4 separate regions of the Homo sapiens genome follow, and regions 2, 3 and 4 are each linked to region 1. Evidence: fine-mapped expression QTL. A gene starts in region 1. Each other region holds a variant in brackets. All regions are shown on one strand. Distances are between the middles of the regions.

Region 1 (8,104 bases):
CACCCCATCCTCCACACTGCAAGCCAAGGGGCTACAAATGTCGCAGCCGGGTGGGCTCACTCTCAGCCCATCATAGGGCTGAGATCCCTCTGCAGGATCCAGGCTGTTTGGCATATCCCTCAAAACCCAGGCCCTGCTGTAAGGCCTGGACCGGGTGGGGTCCTAGAGGTCATCTCCCTGCACCCATGTGAAGCTTCTGAGCATTTGTCCTTGGGGTTTTGCCCCATGGCATCCCAGAGCCACCCAGGCACTATGTTCACCTCCTGCTGCCCTTCAAGATGAACAAGAAGAAGAGAAACAAAGGGAGTTCGCCACAGGCCTGAGTGTGGAGGAGACAGAGAAAGAACAGCACAGAAAAGAGAGGCCAGGAAGGCCCCAGATGCCAGGTCAGGTTCATTTCATGTAGAAATCACTTCAGCAGATTGCTCTGCTAAAGAGAAGAAAATACACTTAACATGATGCATGGCCCCCGCTTGGCTCAAAGCTGATTGCATCTCTAGGCTAGCGACAAGCTGGCAGAGCTTATTAAAAACAGTGCACATGATTCTCTGCCCAAGCTCAGAGCCCTTTCCCTCTGAGCCACTCAGGGCATTTCCCAGTGTGGGTGAGGAAGTGTGCAAGGCCTGGTAGACCTTAGATTGCATGGCTGCAGTTTCTGTAACTATTGTTCATCCTGAGAAGTGAAGGTTTGGAAAACTAAATGAAGACACCCAAGAATGCCATCTGCTTTCTTGAGGCATTGGTTCAATGTTTACTCAGCAAATGTGCATCGTGCTCCTGCCCTGCACTGGGCTGAGCTGGGAGCAGGATTAGACGCTAAGACAAAGTCATGGAGAAGTCCGGTGCCATGAGCTCTGCAGGAAAGATGGACCCAGGGCTCTGTGGGCAGACATTGGGCAGGAAGAATGATGAGGCTGTAAATCCTGAGAATGCACTCCCTCCCGCAGACATTCTCAGAGTCCCAGAGTGTTAGGGGGCAGGAGGAATTCCAGCTGTGGTTCTGGAGGATTGTTAAACCTTTTTGGTGTGTTTCCTACTCTGAGGCATGTTTGTTTTACTCACAATGATGATGCAATTCTCCAATTACCTAGCAACTATACTAAGACTCTAAAGAAAAAGGCAGGTTCTTCCAATACATAGATAAGTCCCAGGTGGAAGGACAAGACCCCAGCCTGGAGAGGTGTTTGTATCGGGAGGAGAATGAGAACGTAAATCCCTGAAGCTGGGAGTGGGTCTGGTGCTGAGCAAACCCTTTACAGTTCTGGTCAGTGCTGAAATTTACTTCAAGGTCCTTTCTCAGTTGCTGGGGCATTTGAAGGGGATGCTCCCAGAGATCTGGGCTGGTAATCATTTCCCTGCCGAGGTGTCACCAGAAATGGATGGCCCTCACATTGCCACACCTGTCTCCCTAGGTTGCCCTCCTTAATCACTTCGAAACAGAGCCGTCTGCCAGGGCAGTGGGCAATGGGACACTCCTGGGCAGCTCCATCATCTCTAGCCAAGAATCATTTGGACTGGCCAGAACTGCACTCTGGTCCCAGCCAGAGGACCCCAGTTCCAAAGTCCTTCATTGTGCAAACAAAGAGACAAAAGAGATGCCTTGCAAGTTGAGGCAAGTCAGGCTCAGAAGGAGACCATGAAATTCAGCAGCATCTGTGGGAGTGGCAGGGGGTGCAGAGAGGATAGGGGAAAGGGAGGAATCAGCAGCTCCTGATCCCCTCCATGTGCCAGACTTTGCAAGTGGCTTTGCTTCCACAAACCCGCCATGCCTCTAGCAGGCAGCACCGATTATCCTGATTCACAGCTTGGAAGCAGGGACAGACAGCATGGATAACTCGCCCAAGATCACCCCAGGGAAAACTGGGAATTTGTCTTAGTTCATTCAGGCTTCTATAACAAAACAGCACAGACAGGGTGGCTTATAAACAACAGAAATGTGTTGCTCACAGTTCTGGAAGCTGGAAGTCCAAGATCAAGGCACTGGCAGATTCCATGCCTGGTGAGGGTCTACTTTCTGGTTCCTGTGTCCTCACATGGTGGAAGGGAGGAGGGGGCCCTCTGTGACCTAATCTTTCATAATGACACCAATCCCATTCATGAGGGCTCCACTCTTCTGACCTAATCACCCCTTAGAGGCCCCACTTTCTAATACCATTACCTTGCAGGGTATGGGTTCAACATACAAATTTTGGCGGGGTCGGGGGGGTGGTGCGGAATACAAGCAATCAGGCCATAGCAGAGTAAAACCCAAATATCCCCAACTCTAATGTCTAGACCTCCCCTGTAAAACCATATGCAGGATCTACTAGACAGAACGTGTGTCAGACTGAGTGCACACTCCTGGGAACTGTGAGCTTATATAAAAATTCACATCATGGCCTTTTAACTGTACCCATTAACTCAAGACCCCTTGTCTCCAAACCTCAACTTTGACTAGTTAGAGAATCACACAGAAATCATTATAAAGTGCTTAGAACATCAGAGTTTTCACGTGGTGACTAATACTTTTATTGACTTATTTTTATTGATACATAATATTTGTACGTATTGATGGGGTACATGTGCTATTTTGTTACATGTGCAGAATGTGTGATATCGAGTTGGGGTATTTAGGCTATCTATCCCCTCCAGTATTTATCATTTCTTTTCTTCTTTCCTTCTCTCTCTCTCTTTTCTTTCTCTCTCTCTCTCTTTTTTCTTTTTTTTTTTTTTTTTTTTTTGACAGAGTCTCTCTCTGTCACCCAGGCTAGAGGGCAGTGGCACGACCTCAGTTCACTGCAACCTCCACCTCCCAGGTTCAAGGGATTCTCCTGCCTCAGCCTCCCAAGTAGCTGGGATTACAAGCATCCGCCACCACACCGGGCTAATTTTTTGTATTTTTAGTAGAGACAGGGTTTCATGATGTTGGCCAGACTGGTCTTGATCTCCTGACCTCGGGTGATCAACCCTCCTCGGCCTCCCAAAGTGCTGGGATTACAGGTGTGAGCCACCACACCCAGCCTGTATAATCATTTCTATGGGCAAACACATTTATCAAACCACCTCCATCCTCTAACATTTGTTTTTTCTCAGACGTGAGATCCTATTTGTAGGACTATAACAACAAGGAACTTTATTAATATGATGTCTAGAGAATGAAAGAGGCACATGTGCCCTAGAGGAAGAGCCGATGTCCTCTGTGAGTTCTCCTCTATCAGGGGTCAGGTTGGATGAAATCTAACCCCCACCTGCCTTTGTAAATAAAGTTTTATTGGAACACAGCCACACCCATTCATCTGTGTCACATCTACGGCTGCTTTGTCACTACAACAGCAAAGTTGAGTAGTTGCAGCACAGACTTTGCGTGGCCCACAAAGCTGAAAATATTCATGGTCTGGGCCTTTACAGAAAAGGTTTGCTGACCCCAGTGCTGAATCACTATGGGATTGCCTGTGCAGGAGCTGTGCCAGCTGTGTTCACATAATGCATCCTGCTTTCATTCACCAACCTCCCTTCCGACTACAAAACTCTGCCATTCTCTGATGCAGGAGATGGGACTCAAGACCACACCGTGCACTTCTCCGTAAAGCCACCTCCTGGACCAGTTGGGTTTCTTGCTCCTTTTCCTTCTGAAGCAATCCTCTCTCTCCCATGAGGCCCCCTGAGCGCACTAAGCAGAGGTGCCGCCTCTGAGTGGAATGTGCCAGGCCCCAGAGCTGCCTCTGAGTCTGCAGGAGTGCAGAGTGGGCAGAGGGCTCTCTCTGCTGTTTTCCATCAGGGCGTGTCCCATCTCAGTCTAACAGGGAGGTGCCCAGAAAATAGGTGGAGGTGAGGGCCACTCAGCCCAGTGGCCCTCTGAGCTGTTCCTTCTTGACCGGCACACACAGCTCGCTTCTTCACTTTCTTTTCCATCCACTGCCGGACCCAAGCCAGCCTTCCAGGGAGCAGCCATGCCTTACCTCTACCGGGCCCCAGGGCCTCAGGCACACCCGGTTCCCAAGGACGCCCGGATCACCCACTCCTCAGGCCAGAGCTTTGAGCAAATGAGGCAGGAGTGCCTGCAGAGAGGCACCCTGTTTGAGGATGCAGACTTCCCAGCCAGCAATTCCTCCCTGTTCTACAGTGAGAGGCCGCAGATCCCCTTTGTGTGGAAACGACCAGGGGTGAGTGGGGCGAGCAGGGGAAGGAGCATAGATGAGGCCGAGGTTCAGCAGCCCCCGCAGGAAGTGGAAACAGGGGTGCTGGGGAGGGGCCGGCTACGCTCAGTGCAACTGAGGTGCATCATCCCAGTCTACCGTGGAAAGCTTTGCAGTTTGGAGGCAGAAAATAATGTACAGGCCTGGGATGCTCTGCGGTGGGGACCCGGGGCATCTGGTTGTACCCGCTCCCCGGCTCCAAGCTGTCTGACTCCCACCGAGGCTGAGGACCTGGAGTCAGAGTGGGTCTTGTCAGCAGGTGATAGGCACGAATCAAAACCTTATCCACAAGGACAGGCCCCCACCCTGTGTGTGGTAACACTGAGATCACGTTATGCACAGTGTTCTGTGGCTTCTGGCCCAGAGCTGAGGGTGCTCAGTGTGGATGGATGTTTGGCTCAGCAAGGTCTCAGCAACCGGGTGACAGATGGAATACAAGGGAAGCAGGAATCTTCTCCCGAGAACCATGCACCCCCCATTCCCAGAGATCAGGGTGAACAGTGCCCCACCTCTGACAGTCTGGAGGTGTCGTCCCAAGAGGCACCAGCTGGTCACTGGGTCCCAAGAGGTGCTAGCTTGTGCCTGGGACGCCATGTCAATATTTGCGGTGCTGGATTAGTCAGGGCTCTACCTCTGACCCGGCGCCAGCTGGGCTGGCTTCCATTCCCTCCAGGTGGGTACGGGCCTGGGAGTGGCTCCTGTGGGGTCCGGTTGCTTTTGGGCAAGGAGGGGCAGTACAAGGGATGCTGGTCCTACAAGTGAGATCCTGAGTGCCTGTCTTATCCTGACAATTTGTCTCATGCATATAGTCATATCACTTCATTTCCCTGAGCCTCAGTCTCCTCACCTGTAAAATGGGAACAATAATGGCTAATGCAGGCCAATGTCTAGCACACAGAAGGTTTCCAGTACATTACAGCTATTGTCACATTATTACTATTACTGATACTATTATTATCATCATTACAATGATTATTAGCTCTGAGTCTCATCTTACATATGAGTAGCAAAGGACTCATCATAACTACCTCCTCACTATCTCCCAACATTAAAATAATGTTGATGATTAAAAACAATTTTTTTTAACGCACATTCACAAAACTTCTGGGCTCTTCAGGGGCAGGGCCAAAGTGAACCTAAGTGGGTGTTTCCGAAGTGGTAAGGGTTTTATTGCTATTTCCTGCAGTAGGCAGTGTGGGGTGTATGTGTGTGCACGCACTTGTGTGTGTAGGAATTTGACTGTGTATGTGCATGTGTGTGACTGTGTGCACATGTGTGTGGATATGCATAGGCGTGTATGTGGGGGGTGGGTGACTGCATGCATAGGCACACAGGTGCTTTGATCTTCACCTGCCAGGTAATTGATCCCACAAGGTGCCATGTTCATGGGGAAATCACAGTGAGCATTCAGTGGCCCTATCGGAGTTGGGGTGAAAGCTCCCAGGCACCTTCCTCACCGAAGCCACGCTGTGATTGTTTTTGGTTCTCTGCATATGGCCAATTGCAGTGTGAGGTCACGGCACTGGCAGATCACGTGGGGTTGCACTTTACAGACAGGATTAGTAGGTCATGCTCTGCTAAGTAAGAAAAAGGACATTTCCAAACTAAAAAAGCAGAAGTTACAAGACATAAAAGAGTGACCCTCTGAGGGGCACCGCCCACGACCATTAGGTCTCCCTGGGCTTATTTCCGGCCTCGGCGCATGAACAAATGGGCGCGTGGGCAGCTGCCCAGGCTGCAGGCTGTGGGTGCATTTTTAACTGTGGGCAGAGATTTCCCTGCAGTTGATGTCAGGAGCCCTGGGAAATAGAGTTAGAGAAATTGATTTCCTGGGCCCCTGGTGAGCAGAGCCCCTGGCCAGAAGCAGCGGCTCTTTCTGTTTGATCCAGGGTTTCATACAGATGCTCATGTTCTCTACAGGCACTTGATATGAAAAGGTTGGAAGCACTTTTTCTCTTCCTTAAAATGGGGACAATAATGCAACTTATGGGGTCCTCATGAGGGTCAGCTGCGTTACCATGAGTAGAGCACTTAGCAAAGAGCCTGGTGTGTAAAGAATCAGTGCTGGTCCTTGTTATTTCTACTGCTGTCATTGTAACCTAACACCATCGTCTCCTGACTCTAGGAGGGCCCCCATCCTTGCAGTCTATATTGACATCATCTAGTTTAAAGTGTAATCTGTACTCTACAACTCACTTACTTTTTGTCAAAGTTAGAATTCTCCAAGATAAAAGCTGGACGCACAAACCAGCATGGAGGGCATCTTTGTCTCCCCCTTCAGAAGTCTCCCCTCCTGGGACCAGGGCCACCAAGGCCTGCCCAGCGACTCTAGAGTCCCAGATCTCTGCTCCAAGGGGCTGTCTTCCTTAGTATTATCTCCTCTGGCATTGCCCCAAACGCTGGGTGAGGCCTTCATCCACAGGCCAGGGCCCTTGATACACACAAGCCCCTGCCAAGATGCACCCCGACCTGCCACCCAGCCCATGCCCCTGTACCAGCCCTCTGTCCCTTCTTCATCCCACTGTCTCCACCTACGGCAGACCCTTTATTGATCTTAACCCAGGTCTACTGTGTTGCTGTCGTTCCCACAGACTCATTTTCAGAATCTGTTCTGCCTTTTCCTTTGTCTGCAACTGAAGATTGTCCCTTTGGTCTGGTCCTCATTCTCGTACCCCTATCTGTTTCTTATTTAGGGGAGTTAGAAGCTTTACATCATATCTTACAGATTTCTGTAAAATCAGGAACAAAAGGGCTGAGGATGAGCATGGAGACTCTTCTTGCAGCATAGAGTCGCAGGGAGCCGGGGGGTAGCGGGCCATAGGGAAATCACAAGCATTGCCAGGTTCCCTGCAGACCTCTGTGGCTTGGGCATCATTTGCAGTGGGACTCAGCATTACACGGTGCACATCTCAGCAGCCCGTGGGACCGTGGGGCTGGACGGCCCTCCTCCTCAGCACCACCTTCTTGTCAAACACAGCTGTACTTGGGGAGGGTGGGCAGAGCACAAAGCCAAGGGGACATTGGAGGGCAGTGGACAGCCAGGCTTGCCCTCAAGGGAGCCCAGGGCAAGGAGTGCACTGAGGGTGACTCAGGGAACTGGCTGGGAGGGGCTGGGAGGCAGAGAGGGTGATAGGCTCAACCTGGAGAGAAGGTGAGATCACCCCCAGGTCTCATGCAAGGGACTGTGGACCTGAGTGGAAGTGGGTGCACAGAAAGAGGAGGAGGGAGTATCGGGTGAGGTCTCCCAGCCTGATGGGGAACAGCCACCATGCAGTCCATCCCTCCTTGTCTGCCTGTACCCATTTATTTTTGGCCAGGCAATTCCCCCCCACCAATTCTCAGTGTAAATCCAGGACACCTCCCCGAAAGTGCCCACACCCCTCTAGCCCATGTGAACAACCCCTGTGGCAGACCTGTGCACAGCGTGGCATGTGACCACAGCCTCTCCTGCACGGTGAGCTTGCCGTTCCCTGTGCTGCTCCCCTGACCCCCAGGAGGGGTTGTCAGTTGTTCTGGGACAGCCCCAAAGGCCCCATGGCCTCCACAGTGCTGGGCACATGACAGGGATCGGCACATAGCTATGAACAGCAGCGTCTGGCATCTCCAGACCTTGCTGGAAATGTGGCTTTTCTTCACTGGAAGGCCATGTGAAAGACAGAATGAATGAAAAAGAAAGAGAGAAAGAAAGAGAAAAAGAGAGAAGGAGAGGAAGAGAGAGAGGGAAAGGGAAGGAAGGGAAGGGAGGAAGGGAGGAAGGAAGGAAAGAAGGAAGGAAGGAGAGAAAGAGAAAGAAAGATAGAAAAAAAGAAAGGAAGAAGAGAAAGAAAGAAAGAAGAAAGAAACAAAGAAAGAAAGAAAGAAAGAAAGAGAAAGAAAGAAAGAAAGAAAGAAAGAAAGAAAGAAAGAAAGAAAGAAAGAAAGAAAGAAAG
Region 2 (8,104 bases), 41 kb after region 1:
GGGAAGCAGGGCATAAAAATTTGGAAAATTTGCAGCCTGGCTATATAGCAGAGAAAGAAAAAGCTTTTTCGAGAGAGGAATTCAAGCAGGCTATGGAGCAACCACTTGCTAGAGATATTTACATAACTAAAAAGAGCCAAGTGCTATAACCAAGACAATGGGGAAAAGGCCTCAAAGGCATTTTAGAGACCTTTGCAGCAGCACCTCCTCCCATCACAGGCCGAGAGGCCTAAGAGGAAAAAAATGGCTTCATGGGCCAGGCCTAGGGCCCCACTGCTCTATGCAGCCTCAGGACACTGTTACCTGCATCCCAGCTGCTCCAGCTCCAGTCTCTGCTCAAAGGCACCAGATACAGTTTGGGCTACTGCTTCAGAGGGTGCAAGAGTGCAAGCCATAAGCCTTGACAGCTTCCATATGGTGTTAAGCCTGCAGGCACACAGAGTGCAAGACTGAATGAGGCTTGGCAGCCTCCACCTAGATTTCAGAGGATGTATGGAAAAGCCTGCATGCCTAGGCAAAAGCTTGCTGCAGGGACAGAGCCCTCACAGAGAACTTCTACTAGGGCTATGCAGATGGGGAAATGTGAGGTTCAAGGTCTCGCACAGAGTCCCCACTGGGGTACTGCCTAGTGGAACTGTGGGAAGGCGGCCATCATCCTCCAGACCCAAGAATGGTGGATCCACTGGCAGCTTGCACCTTGAGCCTGGAAAAGCCACAGGTACTCAACAACCCATGACAGCAGCCAAAGTCACAGGGACAGAGCTTCCCAAGGCCTTGGGATCCCACCCTTTGTACCAGTGTTCCCTGGATGTAGGACATGGAGTCAAAGGAGATCACTTTGGAGCTTTAAGATTTAATGACTGCCCTGCTGGGTTTCAAACTTGCATGGGGCCTGTAGCCCCTTTCTTTTGGCCTTTTGGAATGGGAATGTTTACCCAATGCCTATACTCCCATTGTATTTTGGAAGTATAAAATGGAATTTGTATATCTTGGAACTTGATTTTGATTTGACAGGCTCATAGGTGATGGGACTTGCCTTATCTCAGATGAGACTTTGGACTTTGGAATTTTGAGTTAATGCTGGAATGACTTAAGACTTTGGGGGTTATTGGGAAGGCATAATTATATTTTGCAGTGTGAGAAGGACATGAGATTTGAGGGCCCATAGCAGAATGATAGAGTTTGAATATGTGTCCCCACCAAATCTGATGTTGAATTGTAATCCCCAGTGTTAGGGGTGGGGCTTGATGGGAGGTGTTTGGGTCATGGGGGCGGATCTCTCATGGCTTGGTGCTGTCTTCACGATAGTGAGTTTGCACGAGATCTGGTTGTTTAAGGGTATTTGGCAACTCCCCCATACCACCCTGCTCCTGCTTTTTCCATGTGACTTGCCTGCTCCCCCTTCACCTTCTGCAATAATTGTAAGTTTCCTGAGGCCTCCTTAGAAGCAGAACGGATGCCAGCACTGTGCTCCTGTAAAGCCTGTAGAACCATGAGCCAATCAAATCTCTTTTCTTTATAAATTACCTAGTCTCTGTTATTTCTCTATAGCCATGCAAGAATGGTCTAACACAATGGCTGTCCCTCTTATTTACATTCTGAGCAAGGTCTGAGTGACTAAGGGTGGGGGTGTCAATGCATGGGGTCTGCAAACTCTGTGAAATGTAAACAGCACTGAACAATAAGGGATTCAAAGGGACAGAACCTTCCCAGGCTCTGGGCTCTTCAGCTCTGCAGATCCCAATGGGAAGTTAATCCACAATTGAGGCAGTGTGTTTTTCTGCCCCTACAGGGATATGGATGGAAATGTAGACATTGACCTTCCTGAGGTGAGTCTTCTGATGTTGCTATGGAGTATGGGATTCAGGTGATGGTTCTGGAAACCTTCCTTCTAATCACAGCATCATGTAAAACTCTGCAGTTCAGGGATGGTTACATGCAATCAAGTAAGCATCTATGATTCTAACCTCCTGGAGACCAAGATGTGTGTGTTCTAGTCTGTGCTCTTCTAGTCCACAAGGACCTGGCATGGGAGTGAGGTGGGTGCTTGGTATAAAGTTCTGTTCGATGTCATCTTCCTCTGTGCTACTGTCAACTGAAATAACAAACACAGAGACACTCTCTAAAAGAAAAGCTATTTATTTAGGGATAAAGCACTGCAATGGGAAGGTGCATGCCATAGTAAACTATGCACCTATTTGGGGAGGTAAAGGAGGACAAAGGTTTTTAAAGAAAAAATGAGAAGGATTACATAATTGTTTTGAAATAATTATCCTTGGCTACAAAGATCAATAACAAAAGTGAAGCCAGTCTGATGTTGGACAGGCAGTTGCTAGGCAGAGGTAGAAGTATTTTTGTGTATGGTTGCGAGGGCCTCTGTGAAAGGTTGTGGGTTTTGCAGCCTTTTGTGATATTTTTGTTATCAGGCAAATAAGCATGAGAACCTTCTGGCCTTCCCGAGCTCTATTTGTCAGGGTTTTCTTAACATTAGTGACTTCATTTTGACTCAATAACTTTCACACTACCAACTCCACCTGAGAGAAGGCTGCCGCTTCTGAAGTGGGTAGACTTTTAATTGTATTTTAAGAAATCTAATCAATGAAAAGAAAACCAGAGAGGCAGGGAGATGTTTTTTACTGTGGACTCAGGGGAACACATTACATCTCCCCTATGTTATGTGGTGTGGAAGGGGTGACATGGGGGTGGCTTTACCCTCGTCCAAGGGCTGGAGGACTCGCAAGAGGCCCTGAGATACTATAGCTGGAAATAGTCTGACACGTCCAGGGACAGCAGAGATCTGCTTTTAGGAGGGAATTTGCTGTTCCATGCTGGGGCACAGCTTATTAATGGTGCTAAAAAACCAAAGAAACCAAAAATCACCCAAAACATTTACTGAGCTCTTTCTATATACCAAGCCCAGAGCTTAGTGGTAGAAACAGACTCTTGCCTTCAACGATTTTACCAGCTATCAAAACAGATGATGAAGTAAGTCATTCCAGTCCAGGGTGGTAAGAAGTAAGCCAGAGGAAGGGCAGGAAGCATGAAAATCCAATGGCCAGGACCTAACTTAGGCACGGGTCAAGGTCCTTTGGCCTCCTCGTCTGTAAGGCAGAAGGGCTCCACAGGTCCAGCTAATAAAGTCCTTCTAGTCTCACCTTCTAAAAGAGCCTTCATGAGAAAATGTTCCTCACGCTACAGGACGCAGCTTGTGCACACTGCCTCAGGAGGGTGACATGGGGCTGGGCACACAGGCTCCTGGCTTCTTTCCTGCTATTTTTGTCATGTTTCTTTTTTGTGGATCATTTTGTGCAAGTTTCTTTGGCTGTTTTTTAGCCTCCAAAGCCAACTCCACCTGACCAGGAGACAGAGGAGGAGCAGCGGTTTCGGGCTCTGTTTGAACAAGTCGCTGGTGAGGTAGGACATGCCCCACTTCCATCTCCCCACCAGGCTGAGGGCCTGGACCTGCTTCCTAGCAAAGGGTTGCAGTCGTGGGGTTGGTCAGCAACGTCATCCTGAGGCATGATGGAGCTTGTTGCAAAGTAAGACCAGCACTGATCATTCAAGGCCCAAAGACCACCCTGTTTACAACATTTACTTACACAGTCTGCGGCTGTGGATGGGGCCAGTGAGCCCAAAGAAGCTTGGAATAGGCCCAGACGCTTTGTTTTTTAGTTCTGTTTTGCTTTAGACAGAGTCTCACTCTTTTACCCTGGCTGGAGTGCAGTGGTATAAGCCTAGCTCACTGCAGCCTCAAACTCATGGGCTCAAGAGATCCTATCACCTCAGCTTCCTGAGTAGCCGGGACTATAGGCACATGCCATCATGCTTAGCTAATTAAAAAAATAAATAATAAAGAGTCTTGCTATGTTGCCCAGGCTGGTCTCAAACTCCTAGGCTCAAGCAATCCTCTGGCCTCAGCCTCCCAAAGTGCTGGGATTACAGTCATGAGCTACCACGCCTGGCCCCAGGTGCTTTCTTTGGGAGGCTAGAGCAAGCCTTGAAGAGGTGACTCCTTTGAACTCTGCCTGAAAATCACTGCCATTAGAATACTCTGTTTGCTGTAGTAAAGGGGATCATGTTCAAGGAGGTCCCTATTCAATTGCAACTTCCTGTCCCCCACCCTATCCTAGCTCTTTCCACTGCTCAGCTTCCTTTTTAGGGACACTGGATGGAGCCTCACACAGATCCAGGCTCTTCCTCCACCTGCTGGGGTCAGGGGAGGGAAGTCTTTCTAGAAACTGCCCCAGAGGTGCTCTCTTGGAGCCATAAATACAATGAGCTGATGAACTAATTCATGTCAAGGTGCTAATGACTCTATTAGCTTCATGTGTTTCCCCAAACTGGGGTTCCTGAATTATGAAAGGGGTCACCTGGAGGGGTGATATCTAAACCTAGGGGCTGTCTGATGGTAGTATATTAGGCACTGCAATAAACAGGCAAGGCAGGGAGATTAGGGGACCACAGGATCGGATGGAGAAAATGGGGGCTCATGTGACTGCTTAAAGCACAGCAGGAAGGTGGCTGAGCGCAGCCCTGGGCGGGACAGAGCATGGTGAGGGGGGAAGGCAGTGGTGACCTCCCTGCTCCAGGTGCTATCTGGAGCATGCTGGGTCAGACCCAGCAAGACAGGCTCAGAGGAGTTAAAGAGGTTCATGCGGGTGCGCAGAAGTTGTCAGATGGAGATCCAGAGTTTGGAAGGGAAGCGGTGAATGTTGCAGGAGTTTCAGTCGACCTTTATTAACAACCAAAAAGTACCTCTAGAGTTCAGCCCTCCTTGACTCATGTCCTGCTTTTCTTCCAAGTAGTTGGATGACTTGGGCACATGGCTCCATTTCTCTTTCCTCCTCTTTCAGTGGGGGCCTGGCTGGGGCAGTGCTTTCTTACCAACACCAAACATCCCAAACCCCCATTCCCCAGGCCCAGAGGCTTCAGGACGGACATGTGTTAGAAGCACTCCACAGCATAACACA[C/T]GGCTAGCGCAAAACCCTGACTAAAATGAGGTCTATGTCAGTGCTACTCAAACACACATGTGCATAAAGTCACCTGGGCATCCTGGGAAAAAAAACACAGATTCCTCATCAATAGGTCAAGAGCATCCTGGGCAACATAGGGAGAGCCCATCTCTGCAAAAATAATCAGCCCAGCATGGTGGTGCATGCCTATAGTCCCAGCTACTTGGGAGGCTGAGGTAGGAGGATTGCTTGAGCATGGGAAATTGAGGCTGCAGTCAGCTGTGGTCACACCACTAATACTCCAATCTGGATGACAGAGCAAGACCCTGTATCAAAAAAAAAAAAAAAAAAAAAAAAAAAGCCTGAGTCTCAGGGCAAGGTCTGAGACTCTCCATTTCTAACCAGCTTCTGGGGTGGGGGCTGCTGAGATTTCCTGGAGTGCCTTAGATCCATGATTCTGAAATTCACCCTTATTCTTAATTCTAAATCAACTCCTAGGTCTTAAAAATAGGACCATATTCTCAGGTCCTCTGATTTCAAGATTCCCTGGGGTAAGCCCCAGATGCGGGACTATTTTAAAGCTCTGCAGGTGGTTCTACTGTACAGAGGAAGACTCAGTCTGGTTTTCCCAAACTGCCTCCAACATAGGAATCATCTGAGGAGCTTAGGACAATTCCAGGAGTTGGTTCTGACCCTCAGGGAAGCTGGGAAACCACTGCCTTGCCCTGCCCAGCTTTTCATGCGCTTTCCTGGGTTGGGATGTCTCTCAAGTTAGGCTCTCTCCTAGTTGGGCTGGCATGTCCCTAAAACATGTGACATATGAGACACATAGCTGCAGCTACACAGGAGATAGGTACATCTGCCCACAGCAGGGTCCTGAAGGCTGGTCTGTCACTGGAGCCAAATGAAGCTCAGAACTGATTTAAAACAAAAATAAACTATAAAAGAAGGTGCCAAGGGCTATAACAAACAATTGTCTCCACTTCAACAGGACATGGAGGTGACAGCAGAGGAACTTGAGTATGTTTTAAATGCTGTGCTGCAAAAGAGTAAGTGCCAACCCCATCGGGGTCCTGGGGCACCTATGGAGGGACAAGCGACCACACTGCCTGGGTCCCCTCCCTGCTCCTCCGAGCCGCAGATCTGCTTCCCAGGGCTGATTTGTAGGTAGACTTTAAAAATAGCTTTCATTGTTTGTTTTCCTGATTCCAAAAACGATGCAGGTTTATAGTAGAAAATTCTTAAAAATGCAGAAAAGCCTAATGACAAAGATAGTCACAAATGATCTCACCACCATAAATAACCACTCTTAACATATGTGTATCTGCATGTATGTACATGTGTGTCATATGCGTAGACATATAATGTTAGAATGTTTCATCACTCCAACAAGAAACCCTTTACCCATTAACAGTGTTAACCCTGTACCCATTTCCCCCAGCCCCAGGCAACCACTCATCTACTTTCTCTATAGATTCTATTTACATATTCTGAATATTTTATATAAAAGGAATCATAGGCCGGGTGCGGTGGCTCACGCCTGTAATCCCAGCACTTTGGGAGGCCGAGACAGGCGGATCACCTAGGTCAGGAGTTCAAGACCAGCCTGGTCAACATGGTGAAACCCCATCTCTACTAAAAATAAACACACACACACACAATCAGCCAGGTGTGGTTGTGGGCACCTGTAATCCCAGCTGCTCGGGAAGCTGTGGCAGGAGAATTGCTTAAACCTGGGAGGTGGAGTTTGCAGTGAACCAAGATCACACCGTTGCACTCCAGGCTGGGCAACAGAGCAATACTCCGTTTCAGGGGGAAAAAAAGGAATCATACAATATGTGGTCCTTTCTGACTGGCTTTTCTCACATGGTGTGATGTTTTCCAGGTCCATCCATGCTGTAGCATGTATCAATGTCTCATTCCTTCTTACAGCCAGACAACATTCCATCGTATGGATGGGCCCTGTTCTGTTTATTCATTCATCTATTGGTGGCCACGTGGGTTGTTACCGGTTTTTGGTCATTATGAATAATGCAACTGTAAACACTCCTATACAAGTTTTTTGGGTGGGCATGTGTTTTTACTTCTCCTGGGTATATAGTTATGAGGATGGTTCCATCACAATGCAACAGTCTATGGTTACATGGTGGCATAACCATCCTCTTAATTATATGTTTAGTTAAGAGGATTGCTTAACTCTATGTTTAATGTTTTTAAAAACTATCCAACTGTTTTCTAAAGTGACTATTTCACATTTTCACCAGCAGCAGTATGGGAGTACAAATTTCTCCAACAAATTTAAATCCTGCCATTAAATATGCTGCAAAAACATGATTCCTAAGGGTCGTATAATACTTCATTATATAGACATAGCCTAAGGTATTGACCATGCCTCTCTATTGGTCATTATTTCACTTCCAAATTTTTGCCACTATAAATAATATGATGACAAAAATCTTCATATGTTATTCTTTGCTCGGGGTTCTTAGAACTAGAATAAATGGATGAAGGCGTATTCCCACTTTTATTGCTTTTTTCACATTTAGCCAATTTTCCTTCTGAAAGGTCATGTTAACTTCTACTCCTACCAGCATCATAAGAGAGTAGCCACATCACAGCCCCCAACAGCCCTGGATTTAGCCACATTATTGGGCTTTCAGCAGATGGGTACATAGGTTTATCTTATCGGGTCAACTGAATTCAGCTTTCATGTGCAATTTCAGAAAAGGACATCAAATTCAAGAAGCTAAGCCTGATCTCCTGTAAAAACATCATTTCCCTGATGGACGTATCCTTCCAAATATTTGAGCAGAAATAGACATGGATCCTGGGCTTTAAGCACAGTAGAGTAATCTTCAATAGTGCAGACTCTCCAAGAACATGACATCCTTAGCCAGCAGAATAGTCTTCTTCACAGAAAATAACCCAAAGCTGGGGGACCCCCATGCTGAAATTGGATCAGAATCAAGATGCACAAGACTGCCTAGTGGTGGGGGTGGGGAGCTTTTGAAGGGACTTGGGGGTCTTCTTGCCACTTTGGGATCCCATCCAAGGGAACAGAGTTCTGTTTTTGTGAACTTTCCGGGACCACCCCCATTCCACTTCTGCCGTTTCCCCTCTTCAGAGATTTGTGGTTTAATCATTAAAACCAC
Region 3 (8,104 bases), 57 kb after region 1:
TAGGTCCACCTTTATTTATCATTTACTTTAAGGTAAATGATAAGTAATGTCACTAAAAAACATGAGGAAGTGTGATGGCTGCCCCTGGTCCATGGTGGAAGGAGACAGTGGGAAGGTTTGTTACTCAGCGGCCCCCTGGCTAGTCAAAGGCTCCAGAGCACCAGCAGTGTGGAGGAAGTATTCCAGTGCTGCAGCTTCAAGGTAGAAGTGTGGACACCTCTAACGCAAGTGTCCACAGGTGTAGGGGCTGGAATAGGCTCCTGCCCTGCCCCATATCATCACCCTGCAGTACAACAGTGAAAACCATTGCATTCTCTCCCTCTAAACCTACCATCTTTACATCTGGCTGCATGTTAGCATCACCTGGGGAGATTTAAAAATCCTGATACCCCAGCCACTCCCTAGATCAATTAAATCTGAATCTCTGGAGGTGAGGCCCAAGCATTGTTTTTCTTTAATCCCCTTGGTGAGTCCAGTGTGCAGCCAGGTCTGAAGTATCCATGTTTTAAAGTCCCTCTCCTTTTCCCCTGACCCATCCTAGGAAGCAACAGGAGATTTTCCTGGCTGAGTTGGCCTCACCTGCAATCACTTTCCTAAAAAGGCCTGTGCACCTTTCATTACAGTAGCTCTCATACTATATACACTGTGCCCAGGAAGGAGGACAGAGAAGGGAGAAAAAAACCATCTCATATAATCACGTTGCCCCAAGTCACCATGCTGTAATAAACAAGCTGTTGGGAAGGAGGAGGCAGGGTGGACTCGGGAGAGAAAATGAGGAGGAATTCCATGCTACTTCTCCTTCAGCTCACTTGTAACACCCCCCAGCTATGGAACCTGCTTCCACTTCCTGCAGCCCCTCCAGGGTGGAGGGCCACCTCTCTCCCAAAGGTGAGAGGACCCCTCATCAACAAGGAAAAGTCACTTAATACTGCCCTGCCCAAGATGCTTCAGCGAGGCTGTCCTCTTAACAGGGAGAAAGCACATTTTCCCGTCTCTGTCTTACCAACTGTGCTTGATATGAGCTCACTTGGAAAGGACTCAGGTCCTCCAGAAAATGTCAAGTGCTGAGAATTCATTTATTTTCTTTAAATGGTTTCCTGCTGAGACAGACATCCAAGTTGGCAGGCAAAATGATCAAATAGCAGATCTCCTGTGATATCAGCAAACTGGGGCCACTCCTGAGGCTGAGGCTGGAAGGGACATGGAAGGACAACGACCCCTCATCTCTCTCTCTCTCTTCCCAGTTCATCCATTTGACAATGAACATCTGAGGCTGCCTTGTAGAGATGCAGCCTGCCCAGCTGAATCTTGGCTTCTGGACCTTGACCTTCAGAACTTCTCTTGGTGTGGAACCATTACGCCCAGGGTTCACTCCCCTCTCATCGTCCGGCCTTCTCCCTTCATCTTGATCTGGGAAGAATGAAATGAACTCAGCTACACTCTCTGATTTTGTGCTACTCCTTTGTAAAGTCACTGCCTTAAGGGGGCTGATGGCGCCACCTGTGCCTTACATCCAGGTTCAGGCATCACTAGCTTTCCCACACTCTACTTTCCTTATTTCCTTCCATTAAGAATTACTCAGAGTTCTAACGCACAGAATCCTGACTTCCATGTAGCTCCAGTCATTGTGATCAGACATCCTTTATAAAACATGTTTTTATAAATGTGTATGTGGAATAAGATGAGGAGGAAAAGGAGTGAGGTCATAATTTAGCATTTCTGCATCATAAGTGTGCTTCCTTATCAGGGAAGACATCAGGTAGTTCCGATAATTGGACAAGAGTGGATCTCCGATAAGAGTGGATCAAGGTGACAATCTCTACCTCCTCCTACGAGAGGTGGTAACTAAAACAGTCACTATCCAGTCCAGACATTCTTTGTGTCTGAAGACTTTGGGTCAGAAAAGCTGAATGATATTATTTCTTCTCAAGGAGTCCAGATTCTGGTGAGGTTTGATCTTACTCATCCCCAACATGATGGGGGAAAACAGACCCGAGAATCCTCATTATAGCTCACTAGTGCTGAACAGGAGTATCCACTGAACTAGAATAATGGGAGGTAACATGAGAAGATACTGGCTCAATACATGCCAAGCCCCACATTCTTACTGGTACACTTGTGGCAGATGAGGTGGAGGATGGGAGCGGGAGATACCGAGAGGGAAAGAGGGAGAATGGCTGGGATGAAGATCAAGTTAGAAGTGGAGGCTGAGCATGGTGGCTTACACCTGTAATCCCAGCACTTTGTGAGGCCAAGGTGGGAGGATCACCTGAGGTCAGGAGTTCAAGACCAGCCTGGCCAACATGGCAAAACCCAATCTCTACTAAAAATACAAAAATTAGCTGGGCGTGGTGGCGGGTGCCTGTAATCCCAGCTACTCAGGATGCCGAGGCAGGAGAATCACTTGAACCCAGGAGGCAGAGGTTGCAGCCTGGCGACAAGAGCGAGACTCAGTCTCAAAAAAAAAAGAAGTGGAGCTTCATCAGAACCCTGTCCCTGATCGTGGCCAAGGTACCATGATCTTCTCCTTTACCTTCCAGCCCTTCCCTGGGTTCACGCAGCAGTGGATGCAGGACAAGAGCCCTCTCTCAGGAGCAGGCTTAGGACCAAGGCTCTGTGCTGGGGCACGCCAGTACAACCCCAGACATGCCATCTCCTGTGCTCGGCCTGTGCCCACTCTCATCGATGCACACTGCTGCCATATTGTTTGTTAGATGTCGTGAACACTAGCCCTGCTCACAGGTAAAACTTGGAAGGGGACTCACCATATGAGCTTCTTTGTCTAGTGTCACTCCCACAGGGTGCCTTTAGGCCTTTATGTCCAGGAGCACATAACTGTCTCTCACTGATTTTTCCTCTGCTTGAAAGGTACCCAGGAAATGAAGTTTATGAACTGGGCGTCCTGTTTTCTTTCCATCCATATGTCCCTGGGAAAGTTATTAAACTCTCTGAGACTTAGTTTCCTCCACTCACAAGGATGGTAATTTCTGCCTCACTGAGATCTTATGATGAATAAATGAAATTGTAAGTAGAAGGTGCCAGGCACAGTACTTGACACATAACAGGCCCTCAGTGCAACTAAGGCCCACTGTTGTGAACCAGTGTTTTCTTAAATGTCTAAAAGAGTTACATACTATCACATGCTTTCGGTTTACCTCTGTTCTTCATTGCAAGAATCCAAGAATTATAGAACCAGTCTTGAAGGAGAGTTCAATAGAGCTCTACAGACTATTATATGATCATGAGTTGAGAACAAAAAAAAGTGTATGAATTTAGCTTCTATTTGTTTCTGAATTACATGGTCTGATACTGACACCCAGAAACAAAGGAAGATGTTTCACATGCATGAGTTTGATTAACTATAATTAAAGTGATTTTGTAGCTTATAATTCAAACCAACAGCTTTTGAGTGTGAAAGGAATAATATTAGTTATTACACCAGGACAATAGATGTAAACTGGAGCTGTCCTAGGAAAATTGCGATTTATGGCCATTCACATTATGTCTATCACCACCTGCATAATATATGCTTTAGGTCTTGGCACCAAAATATTCGTGCCCTACTACCTTTAAATTAAACAGTGGCTGGGCATGGTGGCTCACGCCTGTAATCCCAGCACTTTCAGAGGTCAAGGCGAGCAGATCACGAGGTCAGGAGTTCGTGACCAGCCTGGTCAATGTGGTGAAACCCCATCTCTGCTAAAAATACAAAAATCAGCTGGGTGTAGTGGTGCGTGCCTGTAGTCCCAGCTACTCAGGAGGCTGAGGCAGAAGAATCGCTTGAACCCAGGAGGTGGAGGTTGCAGTGAGCCAAGATCGTGCCACTGCTCTCCAGCCTGAGGGACAGAGCAAGACTCCATCTCAAAAAAATAAAAAATACAAAAAAAAAAAGAGAGAGAGAAAACAAAATAACTGGGTGTGGTGGTGCATGCCTGTAATCACAGCTACTAGGGAGGCTGAAGCAGGATAATTGCTTGAACCCAGGAGGCGGAGGTTGCAGTGAGCCGAGATCGTGCCACTGCACTCCAGCCTGGGTGACAGAACGAGACTTTCTCAAAAATAAAAATAAAAATAAATTAATTAAACAATAGTATACACAAGCTATCTAACGCTACTGCTTCACACCAAAATCACATGAAATACAAAGAGATACACACCTAGACACATCAAAGTCAAACTGTT[G/C]GGAAAAAAAGAGAAAATCTGAAAAGCAGCTTGAGAAAAATGACTCATCATGAACAGGGAACAATGCAATTAGCAACTGACTTCTCATCAGAAATGACAGACGACAGAAGGCAGTAGAATGACATTCCAAGTGCCAAAGGAAAAATCTTTCAATCAAGAATTCTGTTTTTCCACTAGAACTGCAAAAATGAAAGCACAATAAAGATATTCCCAGTTAAACAAAGACTGAGAGAATTCATTATTAGCTGACCTGCCACTGGAAAAATATTAAAGGATGTATTTCAGGGTGAAAGGAAATAAAACTAGATGAGACTGTGGATCTGTAGAAAGAAATGAAGAGCACTCAAAAGGATATCTGTGGGTAAATGTAAAAGACTATATAAACGTGTTATCTTCCATTCTAATTTTGTTTGAAGACATTAGATTATATAAAGCATTAATTATTGTACTATGTTGTTGGATTTATAACAATAGAGAGATATATTATAAAGGAGAGAGGAAGAAACAAAGTATTGTAGCAATATTTCTATATTTTCTTAGAATTAAGTCAGTATTACCTCAGGTAATGATATTAGATATTAGATGGTTATAAATTAAGATGCAGATTGTAATCTACAGAGCAACCACTAAGAAAATAACTCAAAAATACAGTAAGATAGCAGAGGAATCAAAGCAGAATACTTAAAAAAAATGTTTAGCACAAAAGCCGTAAGGGAAGAACAGATTTTAAAAATAAGACATAGAAACAAAATGGCATACCTTAATCCAGCCATGCTGATAATAATATTAAATATGAATAAAAACTACAATCAAAAGGCAGTGATTGTCAAAATGGATAAAAAAGCAAGATTCAATTGTACACTATCTACAAGAGATACTTCATACAAAAAGACAAAAGTTGGAAGTAAAAGGATGAAAAAGAGAGTACCATGCAAATACTGGCAATAAGAGAGCTTGAGTGCCTACATCAATATCTGAGAAAATAAAATTTAAGACAAGAAATATTATTAGAGAGAAGAAATGATATTACAGTATCATAAAGGGTCAATACATTAGGAATATATAATAATTACAAGTGTGATGGTACCTAATAGTAGAGTCTCAAAATTATGAAGCAAAAATTGATATAATTGAAAGAAGAAACAGATTATTCAGACTTAACAATTATAGTTAGAGAGTTCAATAACCCATTTTTAATAACTGATAGGACAACTATTCAGAAAATTAACAAGGAAATAGAAGACATGAACAACACTATCAACCAACTTGACTAACTGACATTTATAGAATACTTTACCCTCAAGTAATGAATACACATTTTTTCAAAAGCACATGGAACTTTCTCCAGGTTAGACCATATACTAGACCATAAAACTAATTTTTAATATATTTAAAAGAATTTAAATCACTCAGAGTATGTTCTCCAGCCACAAAGGAATTAAATTAGAAACAAAAATAAGTTTGGGAAATCCTCAAATTTTAGAAATTAACACATTTCTAAATAACTATGAGTTGAAGAGAAAAATTACAATGGAAATTAGAAAGATTTTGAACTGAATGAAACAAAAATAAACTATGTATTTACACATGTCTATACACATCCACATTAACCGGATTAAGCTAAAGCAGGACCTAGAAAAGTAGAGTGTTCTCAAAACAATAATTTAAGCTTCCATCTTAAGAAATTAGAGAGAGAGGCAAATTAAACCTTAAAAGGAAAGAAATAAAGACTAAAGCAGAAATCAATTGACTAGCAAAGAGAAAAATAATAGAGAACATCAAAGAAACAAAAAGGTGATTCTTAAAAAAGATTGCAAAATTGATAAACTTTTAGCTAAACTGACCAAGAAAAAAGACAGAAAACACAAATTAACAATCAAGAATCTAAGAGCAGCCGTCATTGCTGACCCATCAGAAATTAAAAGAATGATAAGTGAATATTTTAAACAACTTTATGTCAACAAATCAGACAACTTAGATGGAATGGAAAAAATCCTAGAAAAAGATAAATTACCAAAACTACCTTCAGAGAATACTGAAAATCTGAATAGACCTATGCATTAGTCCACTGTCACAGTCTAATAAAGACATGCCTGAGACTGGGTAATTGATAAAGGAAAGAGATTTAGTTGACTTACAGTTCAGTATGGCTGGGGAGGCCTCAGGAAACATATAATCATGGCGGAAGGTGAAGGGGAAGCAAGATACCCTCTTCACAAAGCGGCAGGAAGGAGAAGTGCCAGCAGGGGAAATACAAGACACTTATAAAACCATCAGATCTCATGAGACTCACTCATTTTCATGACAACAGCATGGGGGAGACTGCCCCCAAGATTCAATTAACCTCCACTTGGTCCTGCCCTTGACATATGAGGAGTATAAGGATTAAATTCAAAGTGAGATTTGGGTGGGGACACAGAGCCAAACCATATCAACCTACAACATGAAACATATCATACCATATCAACCTATAATATTTTGGTCCTGAGACCAAATCCTTTGGACAGTGCCTGGAGAGAGCCTCAGGCCACAGTCATGTTTATCTGAAATACAGGGCCTACCTCCAGGCTCCTCTCCACCCTGTCCTGTGCAGAGCTACGCAGTGCGCTGAGGGGCCAGGGCTTCAGAAAGCCCAGAGCATGTGACCTGGTTGGCAGAGGTACCAGGGTCATTGGTGCCAGCCCAATTCAGTGTACTGGATCATTAGTAGAAACAAAGCACCATTCTACTGAGAGCCAAGACCGCCTGCCAAGTACCAGTGCGAAGGCTGCCTCGTCACCACAGCTGTGAATCAAGAGTAGGCTGTGCTTGCTACTGATGCCAGCCTGGGGCATTTTCCCAGCCCCACAGTGCCTTTCTGAAGTGGGAGAAGGAGAAGCAGAGGGTTAGACTCTCCTTGGTGCCTGAACAGTGCCTCTGATGGAAGAACGTAGCTCAGTGATATTCCCAAGGAGGTTTATTGGTTCATTATCAGTAGGACTCTCCAAGGAAAGGGAACAGCTGAACCATATGGAGCAACTGCAGGCTCATGTAATAGAAGCAGCATTGAACTTAGAGTTTGAGTCCTGTATTCTAGTCTAGAACTTACCTCCAGCTAGCTGTGTGGACTTAACCATATCACTTTACCTCTCTGGGCTGCCTTGCACCTTGAAATTATGTGATTCCTTCTCTCACTCTGGGAACTAGAAGGCCAGGTCAGTGTGGCTCAGTCCTGGTCTAATTGGATGGATGGAGAGAAGGTAGCAGAGGTGGGCCCAGCAAGCCTGAGAATTCATCTTACTCCCTGACAGAGCTCAGAGTTCTGAGAAGAATGTGGTCACGCAGAAGACTCTCTGTAGGCCACATCAGGACCAGGCTTCTTGGAAAGCTGTACTCCTCCTGCCTTTCAACATCTTAACACACTCAGCTCCTCCATTATACACACTTACCTGAACCCAGCTTGTCTGTATGGGTTTAGCATTCTCTCTTGTCCTTCCCAGTCTACCCTCTACATTCTAAAAAGAGAGTCTCCCACCCAGACGATCTCCTTGCAGTCACTTTTCAATGCACCAGAACAGCTTCCTTAGTTGGAACAGTGAACAGTGTGTTTTCAAACAAAAGGGGCTCACTGCCCAATGTGCTAGAAGCCAATGCTATGACACTGTGTTTCTGAGAAAAGAAAAGCTTTATACTGCAAGCTGCTTCACAAGGAGACTAGAACATCGAGCTCAAATCTGTCTTCTTGTGCTGGCTCCAAAGCAGTATTTTTATTAGAAAAGATTCAGAGGCTGTATTCTGAGATCAGTAGGTGATTGGTGGAGGAAAGAGGAGGTCTAGAAAGTCCTTGGGCATGCGTTTTTATCTCTCCATGCCTCCTCATGGGTCCCCTATGCAAATTTCAGGAGAATTAATATGAAACATGTGGTGGAAATTCAGGCTGTGT
Region 4 (8,104 bases), 280 kb after region 1:
AACTGCTGCCATCAAAGCAGACTGCCACCATGCATCCGCGGAGAACTCCCTGCCTACAAATGAAACTGGTAGCGCTCATCCCCTGTGCCCGAGGACCGTCCACAACGGAGGTGCTTTCTTGCAAGAGAAGCAGCAAATGATGACAGCGTGTCCAGTAGGAAGGGCTTCCCAACAGTCACATCCCTCCCAAGACCCTCTAGATGGACTCCAGAATCCAGTCGCTGCTGGAGAGGGAGGAGACAGGCAGTGACAAGTCCCGAGGAGGGCCTCGGTCCCTCCTGTCGTGCAGGGAGTTCTGCTCCTGGAAATATTCCTCCTCTTCATCGAAGAAGCCGTTCTCCAGAGCGTAAGTGCAGTCTGGGCTGGAGGCTGCCTGGCATGCCCCCTTGTACTCCTGAATCGACTCGTAGAGGCTGTACAGTTGGCAGAGCAAGGACATGTCCAGCTGGCGGAGACCAACCTTGAGGGAAGGGGTGGGGAGGTAAAAAACGAGAAGTCAGCACTTGAGTTTAATTTCAGTGGAACACTCAGCCGGCGATCTGCGCCTGCCAGCACATTCCTTCCACACGGCGCATGATTCAGAGCATCACTCGGATGCTTTGGATTTCCAGTTTTGAGAACACCTTAATTGTGTTATGCCCATACCTCAGACGTTACTCATTGAGTCCAGTGAGGATCGCATCTGTGGGGCAACCAGGGCAGCCTGCAGAATTTACCCTGGCGCTCCTGAGTGTGCCTGATGAAGCAACAGCACTGCATATTCTAGTGGCCCCACCTGCTTTCACTTTGGACGCCAAGAAACGAGTGTGTCACTTCCTCTCCCAATCAGACTCGGAGAAGACCCACATTGGCCTTCCCTGCTACTGCGTTAGGATCTGACTGATGCAGTCATTCTCAACTCCCAGGGGCAACAGAATGCCCTTTGCCAGTGACAGCAGCTGGCCAACGTGACATCCCCCTGGAGCACCCACCTCTGTGCAGTTCAGTGGTCAGAGGTTACACTGCCTCCCTCTCCTCCAGGCAGGGTCAGTCTTATCCCAGATGGTTCTGGGATCCCTCCCCAGAGTAACTGACTGAATATGAGGAAGCCCTGGAAGATGAAGGGCTCTACAGTTCCTCCTGAAAACTAGCCCCACAAAAACAAGCAGCAAAAGAACACAGAACATTTATAAAAGTCATATACTTGTTTATCTTCCAGTTCCTCCCTCCCCCACCACCCATCCCAGAGAAAAGAGCACGGTCACAGTCAGAACAGGAAATGCATCGTTTACACCAATACCAAAGAGAGAACAGTTAAGCCTCTTGGAAATGCAGCATAGACCAGCATCGGTGCCTCTTAACCTTTAAAGTGCATGAGAACCACCCGGGGATCTTGTTCAACAAGCAGACTCTGATTCAGTGGGTCTGGGGCCACTGGATGGCTGTGCTTCCACCAAGCCCCTATGGTGATTCCGTGCTATGCTGCTGTTCCACAGACCCTGCTCTGAATGGCAACGGGAAGAAACTCAAGAAGACACCAGGGGACCTGCCTTCGGCTTCTTGGCCCCTGAGCAAGGTATTTATCACCTTCATCTCCGTGCCTTGGTTGATGGCAAAATGGAACAATAATTTCTCTTATGGAGCTATTAGGGCAATTCAATATCAATCCACTCAATAAACAGGATTCTAATGCCTCCCGGGCTAAAGCACTAAAGATGCATGGGTACAGCTCTCCTGGGCGGCTGGAGAAGGAGCTTCTTCTCTGGAGTGCGCCGGTGGCAGCGCCTGCAGACCTAACTAGCTCCAGGACTTTAAAATACTGGAAATCTGTCCCGATCCAAATTCTTTTGCAAGCCAGATGATTAACCAGAGGGCACGAAAGGTTGAGAACATTCGACTTCCCTGCAAACCTTGGTATAGATCACTTCCTTTTCTGTTAGGAAACGAAAGGCACCAAAGAGCACAATGAGTACAAGAAAGCGTCGAGGTGGAGCAATAAATTCTAGACAAGCCCAGAAGCGAACACGGGAAGCAACCTCCACCCCTGAGATTTCCTTGGAAGCAGAACCCATAGAACTCGTGGAAACTGCTGGAGATGAAATTGTTGACCTCACTTGTGAATCTTTAGAGCCTGTGGTGGTTGATCTGACTCACAATGACTCTGTTGTGATTGTTGACAAAAGAAGAAGACCAAGGAGGAATGCTAGGAGGCTGCCCCAGGACCATGCTGACAGCTGCATGGTGAGCAGTGACGATGAGTTGTTGTCCAGGGACAGAGACGTGTATGTGACTACCCACACTTCCAGAAACACCAGGGATGAGGGCGCTATAGGCCTCAGGCCCTCGGGTACTGTCGGTTGTCCTATCTGCATGGACAGATATTCAGAGATCGTGCAGAATAGACGTCTCATCGTTTCCACAGAATGTGGCCATGTCTTCTGTAGCCAGTGCCTCCGTGATTCCCTGAAGAACGCTAATACTTGCCCAACTTGTAGGAAAAAGATCAACCACAAACAGTACCACTCCATTCATATATGAAGTATTCAGAGACGCCCAGGAGAGACGGATGGACAATCAGGTTCTCCAGTGGTATCTGCCTCCATTTTCCTGAGCTCAAAAAGACTGTTTTGAAACCCACGTCTGATATGTAAACTGCTCTTTTGTTTCCAACCCCTTCCTTTTGTTATCTCCAGTTTGATGCTATGGCGCTGGACCCAGGGCCCTCCCAGGCCATCTCTGTTCCTCTGGGGTGGTCCAGTTCTAGAGTGAGAGAAAGGGAGTCAGGCACACTGGGAATCGTGGTTCCAGTCTGGTTGCAGAACCTGCACATTTGCCAAGAAATTTTCCGTTTGGAAAGTTTGCCCCAGCTTTCCCGGGCACACCACCTTTTGTCCCAAGTGTCTGCCGGTCGACCAATCTGCCTGCCACACATTGACCAAGCCAGACCCGGTTCACCCAGCTCGAGGATCCCAGGTGCAAGAGTGGCCCCTTGAGGCCCTGAAAAGACCAATCACTGGACTTCTTCCCTTGAGAGTCAGAGGTCACCCGTGATTCTGCCTGCACCTTATCATTGATCTGCAGTGATTTCTGCAAATCAAGAGAAGCTCTGCAGGGCAATCCCGTTTCCTAAGAATGAAAAAGTGCAATAAAGGCCATTCGTTACCTACTTTTCAGCAGCCCACCAGATGTAGCACTATTAGTGTCCCCCTCAGAGGCTTAATGTTGCCTGTGGAGCAGTGCCCATCCCAGCCCATTTCTGCCCACCAGTTGTTCTCAGGAACCTTACCCATGCTCCAGCGTCCTTCACCTGGCACAGGACATGCAAGATAAATAGGACAGGCACATGTTTGGGTGTCCTCTCTTTTCTGATAAAATCCATCCGGTGTTTGCCACACGCCCTCCAGTCCTCAGTTCCCACTGCCTAACATCTGCCCCCCGTGTAGATACTGAGAGGTGGTGGCAGTAATTGTGGCCTTATCAGCCGCTCAGTTCCAGCCTTTTGCCCAGGTCACTGTTGCCCCATGTTCGGAGAACCTGGCCCACCTGACTTGGCTTTCTCATCCTTCCCAACCCCGTGCCGTTTATTTCAGAAGCCCACTGGGCTTGGATGCTTTGGGCCTTTGACTGCTCCATAGGTTATGACTGGTGAAACAGGGGCCCAGAGGACAACCTCTCCTTCACTCCACAGGTAGGTGGGAGCCTCAGGTTCGCTCAGGGGCAGCAAAGTGGCCCAAGCTGCCCCTGACAGCACAGGGCCTGGCGGTGGCTAACGAGAGAGGCCTTACAGTGCCGGCATGCCTCCTCTTCCGCTGCCCTCCTTCCTCAGAGGGCTTCAAGCAAAACAAACAGCCTTTTCGTGTGAAACATCTTCAGGGTGGGAAAGGGGCCACTTCTGGCTTTGTTAGCAATAACTGACCTTCAGTTTACCCTTCTGAAGGAGAAGGGACTCAGCACAGAATTCACTTTAGACGGGGCTGAAGGAGTGTCCCTCCTCTATGTGAAAAGAAAATTGTTTTATTCTTCATTCTGACTTTTTAACTGTTTGGCTCACTTCCAGTTAGTTTGAATGAAAATAATAATTTTCTACTTGGAGTTGAAGAGGGCAGAATCCTCAGCTCCCATCATTGTGATGTGTAGCGTGTCTGCCCCCTGACTGGACATCATTGCCATTAACTTTCTTCTGGGCATCACGGGAATGTCACAATGCCCAGACTTGGAGCAAGGCAACCTTGGAGTCAGTCCACTAATAAAATATGGTAACACCCATTTTAAAATTTCTTTAAGTTTTATCCTTGAAGACAACTTCAGTGGTTAATTATAAAAGTTGTGTACTTCGTCCTAAATTAAATTGATAAAAAGATTTAAAAATGTGTTTTGTTTCTACTATTCAGAAACTGCAAACTAGGGAAAGGTTGGTATGAAAAAATGTCTTTCCTTTTTTCAATGTACATAGTTCAACTCTTTCTTTGTTACATTTAAACTACATCCATGGATATCAGTCTGCTTTGGACTCCTCTGCTAGTGTTAAAGATGGAAATAAAACCATTAATTTGAACCAAAAAAAAAAAAAGATGCATGGGTACGCGCATGTAGAAAAGCACACAGAAAGTGTCAGAGGATTTACAGATTTTATAATTACCGAAATGACTCGTTTACCTAGCAATAAGATTTTCCACATAAGATAGTATGGCTTTCACAAAAGGAAGCTGAGGCCTGGTAAAAAGTGATCATCTTGTAAATAGATTGGGTGTTAAATTCCAGGTTTACTCTTCATACCCTCCAACTTTTCTAAATTGCCAAGTGAACACTGGCTGTCTCTCTACTATGGCCTGAATAGACCATAAAAATCAGAACTATGTTTTATTACATTGCAT[G/GCACACACACACA]CACACACACACACACACACACACACACACATTTAGAGATGGAGTCTTGCTTTGTCACCCAGGCAGGAGTGTGGTGGTATGATCATAGCTCACTGCCACCTCAAGCTCCTGGGCTCAAGGGATCCTCCTGCCTCAACCTCCCATGCTGCTGGGACTACAGGTGCATACCACCATGCCTGGCTAATTTTTTAAAGAAATTCTTTGTAGAGATGGGGCCTTGCCATCTTGCCCAGGCTGGTCTCAAACTCCTGGGCTCAAGTGATTTGCCTTGGCCTCCCAAAGTGCTGGTATTACAGGTGTGAGCCACTGTGCCCAGCCTACAGAGCATCTTTTGCTAAGACACTCAAGAAGACTTCCAGATAGAGAGGTGGGTTCTGTTGCTACCACAACTACTCTTTTTTTTTTTTTTTTTTTTTTTTTTGAGACAGAGTCTTGCTCTGTTGCCCAGGCTGGAGTGTAGTGGTGTAATCTCGGCTCACTGCAAGCTCTGCCTCCTGGGTTCACCCCATTCTCCTGCCTCAGCCTCCCGAGTAGCTGGGACTACAGGCGCTCGCCACTACGTCCGGCTAATTTTTTGTATTTTTAGTAGAGACGGGGTTTCACCGTGTTAGCCAGGATGGTCTTGATCTTCTGACCTTGTGATCCACCCGCCTCGGCCTCCCAGAGTGCTGGGATTACAGGCGTGAGCCACCGTGCCCGGCCACCACAACTACCCTTGACACCAGAATTTCTAAACTTTCTTAGGAAGAGACCTCAGCTGCAGGTCGGGAGCGTGGTCTCCAGGCCCAGCTTTGCCGTCCTCTGTGGCTTGGTTGAGGTCCCGACCCTCTGCCAGCCTATAAAATGGGGGATTTGGGCTCGCTCATCTATGGTTAGCTCAAACACTTTGTGACCCTATATAAACTGTTGCTTCTCTGTCCTAAATGAACTGCAAGCGAAAGACAGACAGTTTCCAGTACTGTACTCAGGAGCAAACTTTATTCAATGGCATCTCAAAAGCATACCTTGAATAGGCAAGCAATGGGCAACTTAAGAGATGCCCAGGCCACCACACCCTAAGGCAGACACCACTGCTTGCTCTTTTTCTTGATTAGAGTTCGAAAGGATGTGTGTCTGTCAAGAGGGAGGGAAACAGCATATCTGGCATTTGTGTTTTAAAAATTATCCATAGTTTGGGAATTTTCTATTAAAAAAAGGAGAGACAGGGAAAGAAAGAAGGAAGAAAGGAAGGAAGGGAGAGAAGGAGGGAAAGAAAAGTCAGTCAGTTTAGGAATTTTCTATTGAAAAAATAAATAAATAATACAAAAAGTACCCAGATGATGCTGATGCTCAGTTCCAGCAAAGAACCAGTGATCTTGACACAAATATCTTTCTGATTTTCCTGGGCCACTTATATTTATTATCCTGTAAGCCTGGAATTTCAGGCCAGCCAAGCAGAAGAGCACAGAATTAAAAGTGCAGGCTCTGGAACCTGCCTACCTCCCTGCCTGGGTTCAGATCTTGGCTCCGCCACTCACCAGCTGAGAAACTGTGGATAAATTGCTCAGCTCCTAAAAAAAAAAAAAAAAAATCAATAGCCTCTATTCTCATTGTTAGTATTTCCATGGTTTCTTTTCCACTCTGCTAGTGGGCAGACTCACCTCAGGAAGGAGCAGCAGGTACAGCCAGGCTCTGAAAACAGAAGCGCCCCATCCCACTGTGTTCCTCCCGCTCCTCTCCCAATCCAGCACTGAGGTGGTACATGAGAAGGAACCAGATGGTCACCTTCGCTCAGAAGACAGCCAGCATAGTCAGGCAGGGTGACAACGTGCCAGTGACACTGCCTCATGAGGAAGGGAAACTCTCAAATAGGAAAAGACTTGGGATATCTTACCTCAAACCCCAAAAGGAGGACCTTCCAAACCACTGCACTCCTCTCCAAACCAATACGATTATTTTATACAAAGTCAAAGCCTCCCAGCCTGGAGGCCCCACAGAGCCCTTGATGCTGGGTGTGACAGCTGAGCATCCAAACAGATCTAATTTAACTCTCTCCTAACTACTACCCTTTAATCTGAAGGTCATTTACTTTCCACCACCCCATGCCCTAAAACAAAAACCAAACCTGTGTTCTTCTCTCCAAGCTAAATATCTCAGGCCCTTCCCCTATTTTCATTATGACCTCTCGTCCACTAACACCCGTGGCCTTTCCTCTAGACTTACTCCTGTTTTCCAGGATTCCTCTGCAGAATTGCATCTGGATGCCATCAACATGCCCCCAGGAGTCTGACTCGGCCAGCTCTGACGTCCCTATCTTTGCTAGGATTTCATAAAAGAAATAATAACTTTAATCGAGAAAGCCACACTCTCTCGGGGTCACATAGTATGTGCTCAAAAACCATGGAAGAAGATCATCTGGAATCCTAGATCTACTCTCCTGCTGAGTCCCTCTGACACCAGTAGGGTGGGTAAACCCAAGACTCGATTTCTTACCCCAGGAATGAATAATGGAAAAACACCTAAGTAGCAGTGGGCACCCTGGTATCAGAGCAGGTCTGCTTTTCTCCTTCCTGGGATGGTTTGAGGTCGGCCCAGGTAAACACAGGAGCCTGAACGCTTCTAGGTTTCAAAGGCTCTGACTCCCCATGACCCCATTCCAGCCAGACACGTGGCTCCAGGCTTTTCTCCTGACAGTGCCATTTCCAAGGTATTCCCAGGCCCACCGAGGTGATGCACCCGGCAGGGAGTCGAAAGCAAAGAGGATCTCTCCCTGGACACTTCTGCACTGTAGCACCCAGATGACTCACAAAGCTGCCTTGTCGTCAGGTGGAACACTGGCCTAGAAAGGAATCCTGACCGCCTAGGAATACAGCGCAGCCCCGCACACACCTATTACACAACCCGACACATGGCAAAAGTTCAGACGGATTTAACAAGGATTAGACGCACACACATACATATGCACACGCACACACACGCCTACACACCTCCCAGCCTCTCAATGCCACTGTCTTCAGGCACCAGACTAAACTTCCTGATTTACCAGAAATCCTCTAAATCAGCTCGGAGGACATAAGGTAAGTCACTGCACAGTAAACCAGACTTCCTAGCCCGGGCCCCTCTTCCTCAGCTGTGGCTGTTTAAACAGCGACACTTAACATTTTCTAGAGGGAGGTGGAAGATCCGTAGGCAGCACTCCACCATCTGGTCTGACTGTTCTTCAGGCTTACGCCCTTGACTCCCAACCTGCACAGCCCCGACTGTCCCCCATG

The links.
Region 2: its variant is fine-mapped to the expression of CAPN9 in nasal epithelium (TOPMed, PIP above 0.99).
Region 3: its variant is fine-mapped to the expression of CAPN9 in prefrontal cortex (BrainSeq, PIP 0.95).
Region 4: its variant is fine-mapped to the expression of CAPN9 in prefrontal cortex (CommonMind, PIP 0.95).

What each region holds. Positions count from the first base shown.
Region 1 is chr1:230,743,568-230,751,671 of GRCh38, forward strand. It overlaps CAPN9 (calpain 9), which reads left to right and starts at 3,821. Exons shown (of 20, transcript NM_006615.3): 1 at 3,821-4,142. The coding sequence starts at 3,930. It also overlaps a transcript of AGT not described here. RefSeq lists an enhancer at 7,126-8,104.
Region 2 is chr1:230,784,189-230,792,292 of GRCh38, forward strand. It overlaps CAPN9 (calpain 9), which reads left to right. Exons shown (of 20, transcript NM_006615.3): 12 at 1,793-1,829; 13 at 3,334-3,414; 14 at 5,944-6,001; 15 at 7,676-7,740. The region is part of intron 1 of CAPN9-AS1 (CAPN9 antisense RNA 1); the gene reads right to left. Among named protein-coding and RNA genes, the nearest start is that of CAPN9-AS1, 7.0 kb to the right of the region's middle. RefSeq lists an enhancer at 1-416. The variant C/T (reference allele first, on the strand shown) is at 4,971.
Region 3 is chr1:230,800,326-230,808,429 of GRCh38, forward strand. It overlaps CAPN9 (calpain 9), which reads left to right. Exons shown (of 20, transcript NM_006615.3): 20 at 1,245-1,664. The coding sequence ends at 1,271. LOC124904546 (a long non-coding RNA gene) reads right to left here and starts at 6,791. Exons shown (of 2, transcript XR_007066937.1): 1 at 6,744-6,791; 2 at 1,058-1,410. The variant G/C (reference allele first, on the strand shown) is at 4,183.
Region 4 is chr1:231,019,667-231,027,770 of GRCh38, forward strand. FAM89A (family with sequence similarity 89 member A) reads right to left here. Exons shown (of 2, transcript NM_198552.3): 2 at 1-460. The coding sequence ends at 197. It overlaps MIR1182 (microRNA 1182), which reads right to left and starts at 258; the gene lies at 162-258. It also overlaps the pseudogene LOC644006. The variant G/GCACACACACACA (reference allele first, on the strand shown) is at 4,854.